3 separate regions of the Homo sapiens genome follow, and all the other regions are reported to be linked to region 1. Evidence: microRNA targets listed by miRTarBase, many of them from high-throughput screens and not tested one by one. Region 1 holds a microRNA gene; each other region holds the end of a gene's coding sequence.

The links. Region 1 holds the annotated microRNA hsa-miR-4789-3p (CACACAUAGCAGGUGUAUAUA, at 2,426-2,446, opposite strand). A microRNA usually pairs through its seed, bases 2 to 8, with sites in the 3' UTR of a target mRNA and lowers its output. Matches are read on the target gene's strand: a 7mer-m8 pairs with bases 2 to 8, a 7mer-A1 pairs with bases 2 to 7 and ends in A, and an 8mer does both.
Region 2: miRTarBase lists MGAT4C as a target of hsa-miR-4789-3p. The part of its 3' UTR that is shown has no 7-base or 8-base seed match.
Region 3: miRTarBase lists PHKA1 as a target of hsa-miR-4789-3p. Seed matches in the 3' UTR shown: 7mer-m8 at 1,776-1,782.

Annotation. Positions count from the first base shown.
Region 1 is chr3:175,367,967-175,372,035 of GRCh38, reverse strand. MIR4789 (microRNA 4789) reads right to left here and starts at 2,496; the gene lies at 2,415-2,496. The region is part of intron 5 of NAALADL2 (N-acetylated alpha-linked acidic dipeptidase like 2); the gene reads right to left.
Region 2 is chr12:85,975,857-85,979,914 of GRCh38, reverse strand. MGAT4C (MGAT4 family member C) reads left to right here. Exons shown (of 5, transcript NM_001351288.2): 5 at 1-4,058. The coding sequence ends at 626. Among named protein-coding and RNA genes, the nearest start is that of NTS, 100 kb to the right of the region's middle.
Region 3 is chrX:72,577,482-72,581,539 of GRCh38, reverse strand. It overlaps PHKA1 (phosphorylase kinase regulatory subunit alpha 1), which reads left to right. Exons shown (of 32, transcript NM_002637.4): 32 at 365-2,726. The coding sequence ends at 538. Among named protein-coding and RNA genes, the nearest start is that of HDAC8, 6.7 kb to the right of the region's middle.

The DNA.
Region 1 (4,069 bases):
AGTAATTATATTTGTCTATTTCATGTTATGGTAGGAATTTGCCCTAAGGAAGTAGAACTAGTTTAGCTCAGAATGGCAATATTTCTTCTAAAACTTATTAGGAAACTAGAAGGAACGCTTTGTGGATGTAGTTTTCCTAAAGGTCATGCAGAACTTCCAGGTATTACAGATTTTGAAAGATGAATAATAGCCATTTTAGTGGTTATCTTTTTTTTTTTTTAATAGATGGAGTTGTCCAGGCTGGAGGGCAGTGGCATGATCTTGGCTTACTGCAACCTCCGCCTCCTGGGTTCAAGTGATTCTCCTGCTTCAGCCTCCTGAGTAGCTGGGATTACAGGCCCCTGCACCACACCCAGCTAATTTTTGTATTTTTAGTAGAGACGGGATTTCGCCATCTTGGCCAGGCTACTCTTGATCTCCTGACCTCAGGTGATCCACCCGCCTTGGCCTCCCAAAGAGCTGGGATTACAAGCATGAGCCGTCGTGCCCAGCTCATATCATTCTCAAAGGACTTTTGTAGCACACAGAATGGTTTCTAAATAATATTATCCATATCTTGACTAACACGGTGAAACCCCATCTCTACTAAAAATCCAAAAAATTAGCCGGGCGCGGTGGCGGGCGCCTGTAATCCCAGCTACTCAGGAGGCTGAGGCAGGAGAACGGCGAGAACCCGGGGGGCGGAGCTTGCAGTGAGCCGAGATAGCGCCACTGCAGTCCGGCCTGGGCGAAAGAGCGAGTACTCCGTCTCAAAAAATAATAATAATAATAATATCATCCATAATATTAGTTGATAGTCTCTTCATAATTCTAAATCCAGCATTTTTCAAAGCATTACCAATGAAGGAGAACTTTTAAGATGAAGCTAAATATAAAAAAAAAGTGAATTACTGCAAATTACTATACATAGTATAATTTGAAATTTTGGTAATATTGTCTAAGACAAATCATCCTTTTGGGATAGTTTTTTTCCATACTGTTCAAACTACCCTTCATCCTATAACGGCAGACATGGCCTAATGATTCTCATTTTTAATCAACAGTGTTGTCAGACATTTCAATGATTCTGAACATAATGTTATGACATTCAGGGCCAGAGAGCAAGCATTCTCTACTTGCTCTCAGCTGAAAGCAAAGAGGTTCTCAAGAGCTGCCAGCCTTTCTCCTTTATGCTCTGAAAGCCTCCTAAACTTGTCAGTTTACTTCCATTACCCTTTTATTGAAAACAATGAAAGAAAAAAAGTTACTACGGTGTTTATACTTTTAAAGTGAATGTCTTTTGTAATAAGGTAGAAATATCACAGAACCATCGAATGTTGGAATCAGAAGCATGTTTGGCATATCATCAAGTACAATAGCCACATCCTGCCTATGTGGAAAGCTGGAGGGGCTAAAGGACCTCTCAAAGCTACACATGTAGAGTCAGCAGCAGAGCAGAGCTTAAAGCAGCAAGTGACTCTTACGGCCATCAGTAATCACACTCTTGCTTAACATGCAAATGAATAAAGCTATTTTTATAAAATCCCTCCCCCCCCCATATATTGGCAGTAACTCTAAATTCTAGTCATTTTTTAACCATTACAGAATAAGATTAGAAGCATCAGTAGTTAATGGTGATAATAATTTCCATTTTATATGGGGTTTTATGGTTCACAAATATATTTTATAAAATAAGTTTCTAACATTTCATTTTCTTATATTGAGGGCTTTTAAAAGAAATAACCAAAACCTATTTTATTAAAATTTGATATTTAAAATTATAGTTGAGAATAGTGGAAGATTTTTCCCATTATCTTTGCTCTCCTGGATAGCAACCAGATAAATGACTTCCCAGAGAAATGCATAGAGTCATATAAGATAAAACGTCTTTTTTTCTCCATTTTACTCAGAGTTTGATGATGAACTATGACTGGATATTGAAATAATCATTCTTTTATCCTTTGTAGTAAGGCTTACTTTGTCCAGTGGCAACATGATCAGACAAGCAGCTCTCAGATGACATGTGACAATATTAAATTCAATCTTAGCAAGCAGCTTCTCAATTTCACACTTGTGGTAGCTGGATTAACCCAATTATTTTTTGGAGGTTAAGGGAAACTTTCACATTTGCAGAATACCATCCTTCAGAAACCGGAATGTAGGATTTTGTTATCTCAAAGAATTTTATGGAGATGGAAAGATCAGTTAGTATTAAATTTTAGCACACAATCAGATGAAGGGTTTAGGAAGAAGTAGATATGATTACCTAATAATTCACTTTGAGTTCTTCACTTTGAGCCTCAAAAATGTGTGAAACTTGGGACTTTTACTAAGCATATCTTTCAGGCAAAATATTTTCATTGTACCAGTTCCAAGCTCTTGGTTCTAACACAAAACCCCTGCTACACATACACACACATGCACTCACACACACACAGGCTACCTATATATACACCTGCTATGTGTGTGGATATGTATTTACACATACACATATCAGGTGTATACATACGTAGCATGTATATATACACATACACACACACGCACACAGGCACACACATACTTGTTACCTATATATGTATACATGCACATATCAGGTGTATGTAAATGTAACATGTATATGTACACACACGCACACAGGCACACACATACTTGTTACCTATATATGTATACATGCACATATCAGGTGTATGTAAATGTAACATGTATATGTACACACACGCACACAGGCACACACATACTTGTTACATATATAATTACACATGCACATATCAGGTGTATGTAAATGTAACATTTATATATACACACGCGCACACAGGCACACACATACTTGCTACATATATATACAGTCAGGTGCTGCATGATGACATTTTGCTCAAGAACAAATCACATACATGAGGGTGGTTCCATAGATTATAGTGGAGCTGAAAAACTCTAGTGGCATTGTTCTCATTGTGACATTAGTGCAATTACTTAATTTTTAAAACAAATTTAGTGTAACCTAAGTGTACAGTGTTTATAAAGCCTACAGTAATGCATAGTAACGTCTTAGGCCTTCACATTTGCTCACTGCTCATTCACAGATCCACCCAGAGCAACTTCTACTCCCACAAGTTCCATGAAAAGTGCCCTATACAGGGGTGGCAATTTTTTTTAATCTTTTATATCATATTTCGCTGTACCTTTTCTGTGTTTAGATATGTTTAGATATACAAATACCACTGCATTGTAATTGCCTACAGTGTTCAGTACAATAACATGCTATGCAGGTTTGTAGCTTAGAAGTAATAAGCTATACGACATAACCTAGTTGTTTAGGAGGCTACACAATGTGTTTGTGTTATGTGCACTCTATGATGTTCTCTCAACAATGAAGTCACCTAATGATGCATTTCTCAGAAAGCATCTCCATTATTAAATGGCACATGAACGTATTTGCTACATATATACATACTGGCTATAAACACACACACACACACACACACACTCACACACACCTGCTACAGTCCTTTCAAAGTATAAAAAAAGATACCAAAATGTGTTAGAGATTCGTTTGTAAAATGTAACTATTTTCGGACCAGATGGATTCACAGCCGAATTCTACCAGAGGTACAAGGAGGAACTGGTACCATTCCTTCTGAAACTATTCCAATCAATAGAAAAAGAGGGAAACCTCCCTAACTCATTTTATGAGGCCAGCATCATCCTGATACCAAAGCCAGGCAGAGACACAACCAAAAAAGAGAATTTTAGACCAATATCCTTGATGAACATTGATGCAAAAATCCTCAATAAAATACTGGCAACCCGAATCCAGCAGCACATCAAAAAGCTTATCCACCATGATCAAGTGGGCTTCATCCCTGGGATGCAAGGCTGGTTCAATATACGCAAATCAATAAATGTAATCCAGCGTATAAACAGAACCAAAGACAAAAACCACATGATTATCTCAATAGATGCAGAAAAGGCCTTTGACAAAATTCAACAACGCTTCATGCTAAAAACTCTCAATAAATTAGGTATTGATGGGATGTATCTCAAAATAATAAGAGCTATCTATGACAAACCCACAGCCAATATCATAATGAAT
Region 2 (4,058 bases), not on the chromosome of region 1:
GTTTGGCCCATTTTTTATTAATGTTTTATCAAGAAATGCCTTGTGATTGGCTATTGACTCATTTCCGTGGTCTGTTGGCTCAGAAAAATGTGATCCGTTTTAAACCATCTCTCTTTCAGCACATGGGCTATTATTCATCATACAAAGGGACGGAGAATAAGCTGAAGGATGATGATTTTGAAGAGGAGTCATTTGACATTCCTGATAACCCCCCTGCAAGTCTGTACACCAACATGAATGTGTTTGAAAATTATGAAGCAAGCAAGGCTTACAGTAGTGTTGATGAGTACTTTTGGGGGAAACCACCTTCAACAGGAGATGTTTTTGTGATTGTATTTGAAAATCCAATTATAATAAAAAAAATTAAAGTAAATACTGGAACAGAAGATCGGCAAAATGATATTTTGCATCATGGAGCCCTAGATGTTGGGGAAAACGTTATGCCTAGCAAACAAAGGAGACAATGTTCTACTTACTTAAGACTAGGAGAATTCAAAAATGGAAACTTTGAAATGTCAGGTGTAAATCAAAAAATTCCATTTGATATACATTGTATGAGGATATATGTCACCAAAACACAAAAGGAATGGCTAATTATTAGGAGTATTAGCATTTGGACTTCTTAGCCAATTAAATCAGTATGTTCAGTTTCTGAAGCAGTTCTTCCTGCTTCGTCTTTTGCTACCTTTGTCTTTTGGAGGGAAAGCAATGGATGGGATATGTTAAAAGAAACATTAATTACATTGGCAGTTTTCATTTATACATTGTTGACATAATTTTACTCTTAATACACACTTGTATTTATTTTAACGTCTGAAGTTGAATATCAGTCTATAGCTAATGCTACTTTCATTTATATTTTTAAATGTTCTTAGTTTTAAAATTTCAACTGATTGTCGAAAGGGTAATATGAAAGATTTTAAATGAAAAAAATTTGTTGGATGATGATTTTTGAAAAATAGTCACCAACTGTATATACTTCCTCAAGAACTGATAATTCATTATATCATCAGATAGCTTTTATTAAGCATCTGTGGGAATATACAGTTGGGTGGAATGATAATCTGGTTTATTTTTTCTGTAAACTTAAGTTTCCGTTGACTTCTGTACATCTACAATGAATACCTCCTCATAGAAGTGGTGTCTTTACATAATTTTTTGTGTAGGTGACACTATGGAAAAAGAAAAAAAAGACTTAAAAATATCTCTCCCCTGATTATTTATATGAAAGGGGATATTGTTCATTGTTTAAAAACATTTAATTGAGCACCTATTGTTGATAAATTTTCTGGGGGAAGCAGTCTTTTTCAAGTTTCCCTTTTGAAAAAAAAAAAGAAGAGTTAAGCTCAATATTTTCAGGTTACATTGAGTACCCACATTTAATAGAATAAATTAGGGAAGGCCTATAGTAGTTAGCTCATTCGTACAGACATTTTCAGTATATGCAGAAAATTTTTGGAAATTGATTTTATACATTTTGTATTAAAATCCATGTGATTGAAATTATTGTGATTTATCATATACCTTTTTGGAATTTAAATGGGTATATTATAAAGGAGAAAAGTAAGAACCATAGAAATTAGTTGACTTTTCTAGAATCAAAGATCTATTTCCTAGCAAGGCCAGAATGAGAGATCTGATATTCTGATAACCAGACAATGCTCTTTTTCTCGTATGATTTCTCCTGACAGATTTATGCTTTGTGTTCTATTTGCTACATGCCTGTCAGATAATAAGTTATACCATCTGGAAATAGGTGGTACAATTCCTGCATAAATAATATTATCCTAAATAATGTCCTAAATGATGCTTTTTTGGTATAAGCACCCAAATAGTAAGCAAACTTGACTAAACTTTTCCTAATAGGGATTGGAGAGTGTGTCTTTACAATGTGTCCGTTAAAGTAATTCAGGACACCTTAGTGTGTCCTAAAGACATTGGTTTTCAGAATGTCCTGAGCTTGTCTCTTCCTTTTTGTTTTTTAATGAACAGCAAAAACTAAGGGATTTATTATAAAGGGAAATGGAAGGTGCTTCATATATGTTTAAGAAACTCAAGTACGTGTTCATATAGATGACTCTGTGTGTGTGTGTGTGTGTGTGTGTGTGTGTGTGTGTGTGTGTGTGTGTGTGTGAAGGCTAGACTTTTGCTGGTAAGACAGAATGAGGAAATCTTCCTGCTCTTCCTTTTCATACTGAAACACAATCCTTAAGATTTACTGGTATGCTGTGGTGCAAACAACACTAGGATATTTTTATTTTATTCGTTCTCTGCAAATAAATGAGAAACTCAGATAAAAAATGGAAACTTTTTATTTCATTTATAAACAGCTGTTGTGTATTTTCTTTGTATTCAGCTACTAAAGTGTTAGAAGAAAAACGAACCTTTCATAAGAGGCTAAATATTAATATTTTGTGAGGCACCTAAATCTTACAGTCATAGGAAAATATGAACACTGCCACTAAATTATTATCTTTACCTTGATTTAGAGGATACTTGCCAGACACCTAAAAATGTTCTATTTTCTTTATTTTTCTTATCTTTTATTAACCGGCTAGTTGATAGTATTGTGTGTATATCTCAGAAGTTACAAATGGCATTATTTTCTTCACTGTCAATGATAAAAGGTACACAATTGTATGCCAAAGACATGTAATATCAAGAGCTAGGCAGACTCCCTGAAATGAGTTGTAACCCCTTACATATTCTTCTGGGAATGGCTTTCTAAAGATCAGCTATTGGTGTCTATCAATGTCTTAAAAATGTTTCAAGAAACATTGCTGAGGGTAGCAGTGAAGTTGGATGTTTGCTAGGAAATTATGAAAACAAATGTGACTCAGAGAGGTCATTTCACATTTTATCTTTATATCCTCTCTTTACTAAACCTGTGTTTGGATAAGTTGGTCAATCATCCAAGGATCCTCTATGTTTTCTTTACAGTTGACACTGGGTCAATTTTCTAAGGAAAACACCTTGACAAATAAAGCATCTTCATTAGAGGTCAGGAGGAAAAATAACTATTCTCTTTCAAAAGAAAATCTGAACAATTTTTTTAGCATGGCCCAATGTTCTATTTCCTATATTTAGAAACTTTGAATAAGGGTCTAGTAATCTTGTCTCAGAGGCATAGAAACAAAAGTACAGTTATTAGGTTTAACTATACTCAAACTATTTGCTATTTTTAAACATTTTTGCTGTAAGTTTATATATATATACATATATAATACATATATACATATATATAATATATATATACATATATATATAATTTTCTTTGTTAAAAATAACAATTGAAAAAGACTGGCATGAGACATGAATGGCTGAGTCATTTAATTGCCATACAAATAAAATGCTGACAGGTTTCAAGCAAAAAATACAGTATGCACCTTAAATAATGCCTCAGAATTGTATAATTTAAGCTCACTAAAAACCTTACTTAGTCTTAAAATTCTCCTTAGGGGAGCCTTTTCAGCAGTTATGGACATCAAAGAAAAAAGTATCTTGTAAAAGCACAATGAAATTTAGAAAATACACATTTTAGTGGCAATCACAAATGTCAATATAAAAGATACATAAAATATGTTAATGCAAGAACTTTTTCATATTCATTGAAAACTATAACTTTGTGCTATTTATAAAGTAGATATTTTCCAGGTATGAAAATATAATTTGGAAACCAACCTGTCGTTTAGATCTATTTCTTTCATATAGCTACACTATGAGTTGTGAACATTCCATTTCTTACTGGGCCAGTATTCTCTGGGAATTTTTATAATGCTATCATAGAAAAACTGTTCTGTATAATAATTATATAAAAAATGAAACAAACATTTTCAAATTGTAATATATGATGTGGTATGGAAAGTACCTACATTTTTAGATGCTCAAATATTGGCATATTTCATGTCAGTATTTGCCAATTTGTCAACAAGTTTATGGCAAAGAACATGATACCAGGATTAACATTGAAAACACTACATCCAGTGCCATCTAACAATTGAAGGAAACAGTGTGTAATTCTCTTCTTTTTCCTTGACAATACATCCATCAACACAGTA
Region 3 (4,058 bases), not on the chromosome of region 1:
TAGAAGGAGTCAGACCAAAGCTCTACTACGGTGATTTGTGTTAACATTTGTCTATTAATAGGTATGACTCAATAGATGAATGATTATATTTAACTTTTAGAAATTGATCATAATGGGGAAAATTCTAAACAATTAATAATTTTTAAATAATTTACATGATTTGGGGACCTAGTGAAAAATGCCTGCATACAAACTCATATTCACCCTTTTGTCCATAAACCTATTTCTTCCTGGATAAACAGTCTAGGGCCCAACTAATTGGTGTTGGGGAGGAGGTTCTGAATTATGCTAATCAGGACTTTACTTAGTAAGATTGGTAATTTTTCCTTTCCCCTATGTTCTTCTACCCTTAAAAACCAAACAGAAAACCCTTGGCGCAGATGATACCATGTTGGCAAAGGATCCCGCATCTGGCATCTGTACTCTTCTGTATGACAGTGCACCCAGTGGCAGGTTTGGCACCATGACCTACCTCTCCAAGGCAGCCGCCACCTACGTGCAGGAGTTCCTGCCCCACAGCATCTGTGCCATGCAATGAGGGCTTTGGTTCCTGGCTTCTGGGAGCCTTTTGACAGCTGGTCCCTGCCTCGGTTGATTGTGCATGGAACTAAAATGTTATTGCCTAATCACTCCAACCCTGCCCCTTTCTGTCCCATCCTTCCCAAGAAGAGAGAACTTTTTCGATAAACTAACTACTGTAGAAGAAGTGAACACTTACCTGGAGGCTCACCTTGCAGAACCAGTGACAATCTTATGAGTATAATGAACACTCAGCCAGGCCTGTCATGATTGGCTTTATTTCTTTCATCATTCATAAAAGTTTGCATGTGTTTTTATTCTCTAGATCTGTTACCAATATAGTTTTCTAACTCCTGTTTGGGGAGCAAGTGTTAATAATAACTTATTCCTAAAGCTTGGTTTTTCTTTTTTGTGATTTTATTGTGTATATGAGTGGTGGGTACTTTGGGACATTATTTCAAATGAGTAAACTCTAAATTGTTAAATATTTATGCTGCTATAAATTAGAATTACCTATTCTACGTGCCTTTTCTTAGGAAAAGAGAGTACTGGATCATGGTTTTCTTCCTTACTTACAGGTTGCTTCACACTGAGTGATAATTTAAAATTGTTTCTATGTAGAATCATTGTCTCTACTGTTGCCCTCTCTGTGTCTGCACACATAATGCCTCTCTCACTTTGGTGAAATATCAAAAAAATGCAAGTACAGCATGCATATTTAAGAATTTCTGAACTAACACTTGAAATCACATTTTATAAAGATTGTTGGTACTCAGAGTTGTATTTGCAGCAGAAAATGCAGAATAACCCAGAAATGGAGCCCGGAGCCCAATTCCAGAGAGGAAGGGAAAGAAGAGACGATGCCTGGACAATGTCTTATACATAGGGAACAGAGAGGGAATCAGAGGTGGCTTAGTTCCCTGAAGACAGCCTTATGCGCTTAATCCCTGCCTTTGAAAAATGGGCCAATACACAACACAGACAATAATTTGAAGCGTCTGTATTCAGCAAAGATAAATACAGCAGTCCAGTCTATAGGTGCTCTACTTAGCATTCTTTTCATGTGCTCCTGGTCTCTGTCTCACTCACCTACTTTCTACTACATCCAACTCAACTCCCTGACACCCTATCCCCCCATCTATTCTTAAACTCTTTCATATATATTTTCACTTCCTAATTCTAGTGTACATATCCCTGTATATCATGGTATCTGTGGGCATATGTCTGTTTCTTATAAAGACACATATTTGTGTGTGTATGTGTGTGTGTGTGTGTGTGTGTGTATAAGCATACATGGGAATTTTTCTGAATGTAAGCAGTTTTGATGTGTCTGTATATCAATCTGTATCTACATTTGATGGACTGAGTAAGAATGTTGCATGTGAGAGAAGGGATGTGACTGTGGACTCAGATTGACACACACAGATTGGTGGAAGAATAGCTTCAGTCCTCTTCCTTCATCCCATATGTAGGTAGCCTTGCTTGACAAATGTTTCTTCTAACTCTCCTTCTTCTGAATTGTGCAGAGACTCTGTTAACTTCCCTTTTTGCACTTAGATAACTTCCTACTTCAACCCCCTCCTTTATCTTGGATTTCTAAAGTTTTTCCCCAATATTGGGAATGGTGAGGGTGGGGATGAGAGACTCTCTGAACAATTCTTGCAGAACCAGTGACAATCTTATGAATATAATGAATAAGTAAGCATATAGTAGGGTGATAGAATACAGATAGTAGAAACAAAGAGAGGACAGCAAACCTTTTCAGCACTTCTCTCAGAGCAAATGGAAACACACAGTAAGTAGCTTTCTGACTACATTATTTTCTGGTCACTTTTAAAGAAAGTTTACAACCTGTTCTGAAACTATTTGTCTTTTCACTGGTTGTAAGTGTACCCCAATCTCAGGGAGTATATCTGTAGTGCCACAGGCAAAAGATCCACTCCTTCCCACACTCATTTGCCTGAACTTACTCGAAGGGCTGCATTTCTCTGAGTTTACGAAATTGTGTCATTATGGTCCCCATACAGTGGTATTTAACTTTTAAAGCAACTTTTAAGAAAACTCGACTTGTTTTTTGTTCATTTTAAGTGTGTGGTACTAAAAAGACATGTTAGACTTTTTTTAAAAAAGCACTTATGTTTTGAAAATAGAATAAATAATAAGAATTTCCAATTAAATCATGTCTGGTGCCAATGTGCAAAACTTCACATGTGTTTTTGTGATTGGAGTTTATTTCATGGCTTTATTCTACATACTCTGCTTAATTATACAGTACAGTCAAAGCTCATTCATTGGGTTGAAGTAGAATAATATTAATATATTAATACATATATAATATATTATACATTTCATAATATGTTAGATAATATATGTAAAGAAATGCAGTTTAATCATTCAAATACATACCCACTCAAACAAGGCTTACTAAATTCAAGCGGGCTTATTGACATCTGTAGGGAACATTTTCTTTTCTTTTCTTTTCTTTTCTTTTCTTTTCTTTTCTTTTCTTTTCTTTTCTTTTCTTTTCTTTTTTTTTTTTTTTAAGACGGAGTCTTGCTCTATCGCCCAGGCTGGAGTGCAGTGGGGTGATCTCGGCTCACTGCAACCGCTGCCTCCCGGATTCAAGCGATTCTCCTGTCTCAGCCTCCCGAGTAGCTGGGATTACAGGCATGCGCCACCACACCCAGCTAATTTTTTTTGTATTTCTAGTAGAGACGGGGTTTCACCATGTTGGCCAGTCTGGTCTCAAACTCCTGATCTCAGGTGATCCGCCTGCCTCAGCCTCCCAAAGTGCTGGGATTACACTCGTGAGCCACCGCGCCTGGCCTGTAGGGAACATTTTCTGATGAATGAGTAAAACATTTTTACTCAGCCTTTCAATTGTGTACAAATGGTGCTTCTTCCCTAATGAAGGGTATTTTAAAACAACTTGTTTTTCTAAATATTAAAAATATTTGGCAGAATCTTGTTTGTTTATACTATTCATTAGCCTTTTCTATAACAGGATTTATCCAGCAAGGATGAACATTGTCTCTACAGTTCCATCCTGGTTAATGAAATTTTACTACATTCTGGGAATCTTACACAACTGGTGGGGCAAAAGTTGTTCTTCACCACAGCTGGCAAAACCTCTGCCATTCCTTTTTCTACTTACCAAGTACCTAGTGTCTGCACTAATGCAGTGGAGATTATTTTCCACATGTAGTCTTCATTTCCTTTTTATTTATTTAATTTTAAAAAAATACAGCCATCAATTTTTATTCTTATATTTGGTAGACATTCATTTCCTTTTTAACTTGAGTAACCTCAGGTGTTGGTTTGTCCAGGGCAGCCCCCATTTATGCCTGTTTTACTGGCATAATTATCAATAGCACTGTGTCACTCTCAAAAAATGTCTCAGTTTGAAAGATATGGTCACCCTATATTTAGCAGATGTGTGATTTCTTTTAAGGCTAAGCCAAAAAACCAAGAACTTATTCTCAAACCACTAGTAGTACTTGTGCAGTAGTGGTATGGGGGTAAGGATGACAGTAGGGGGA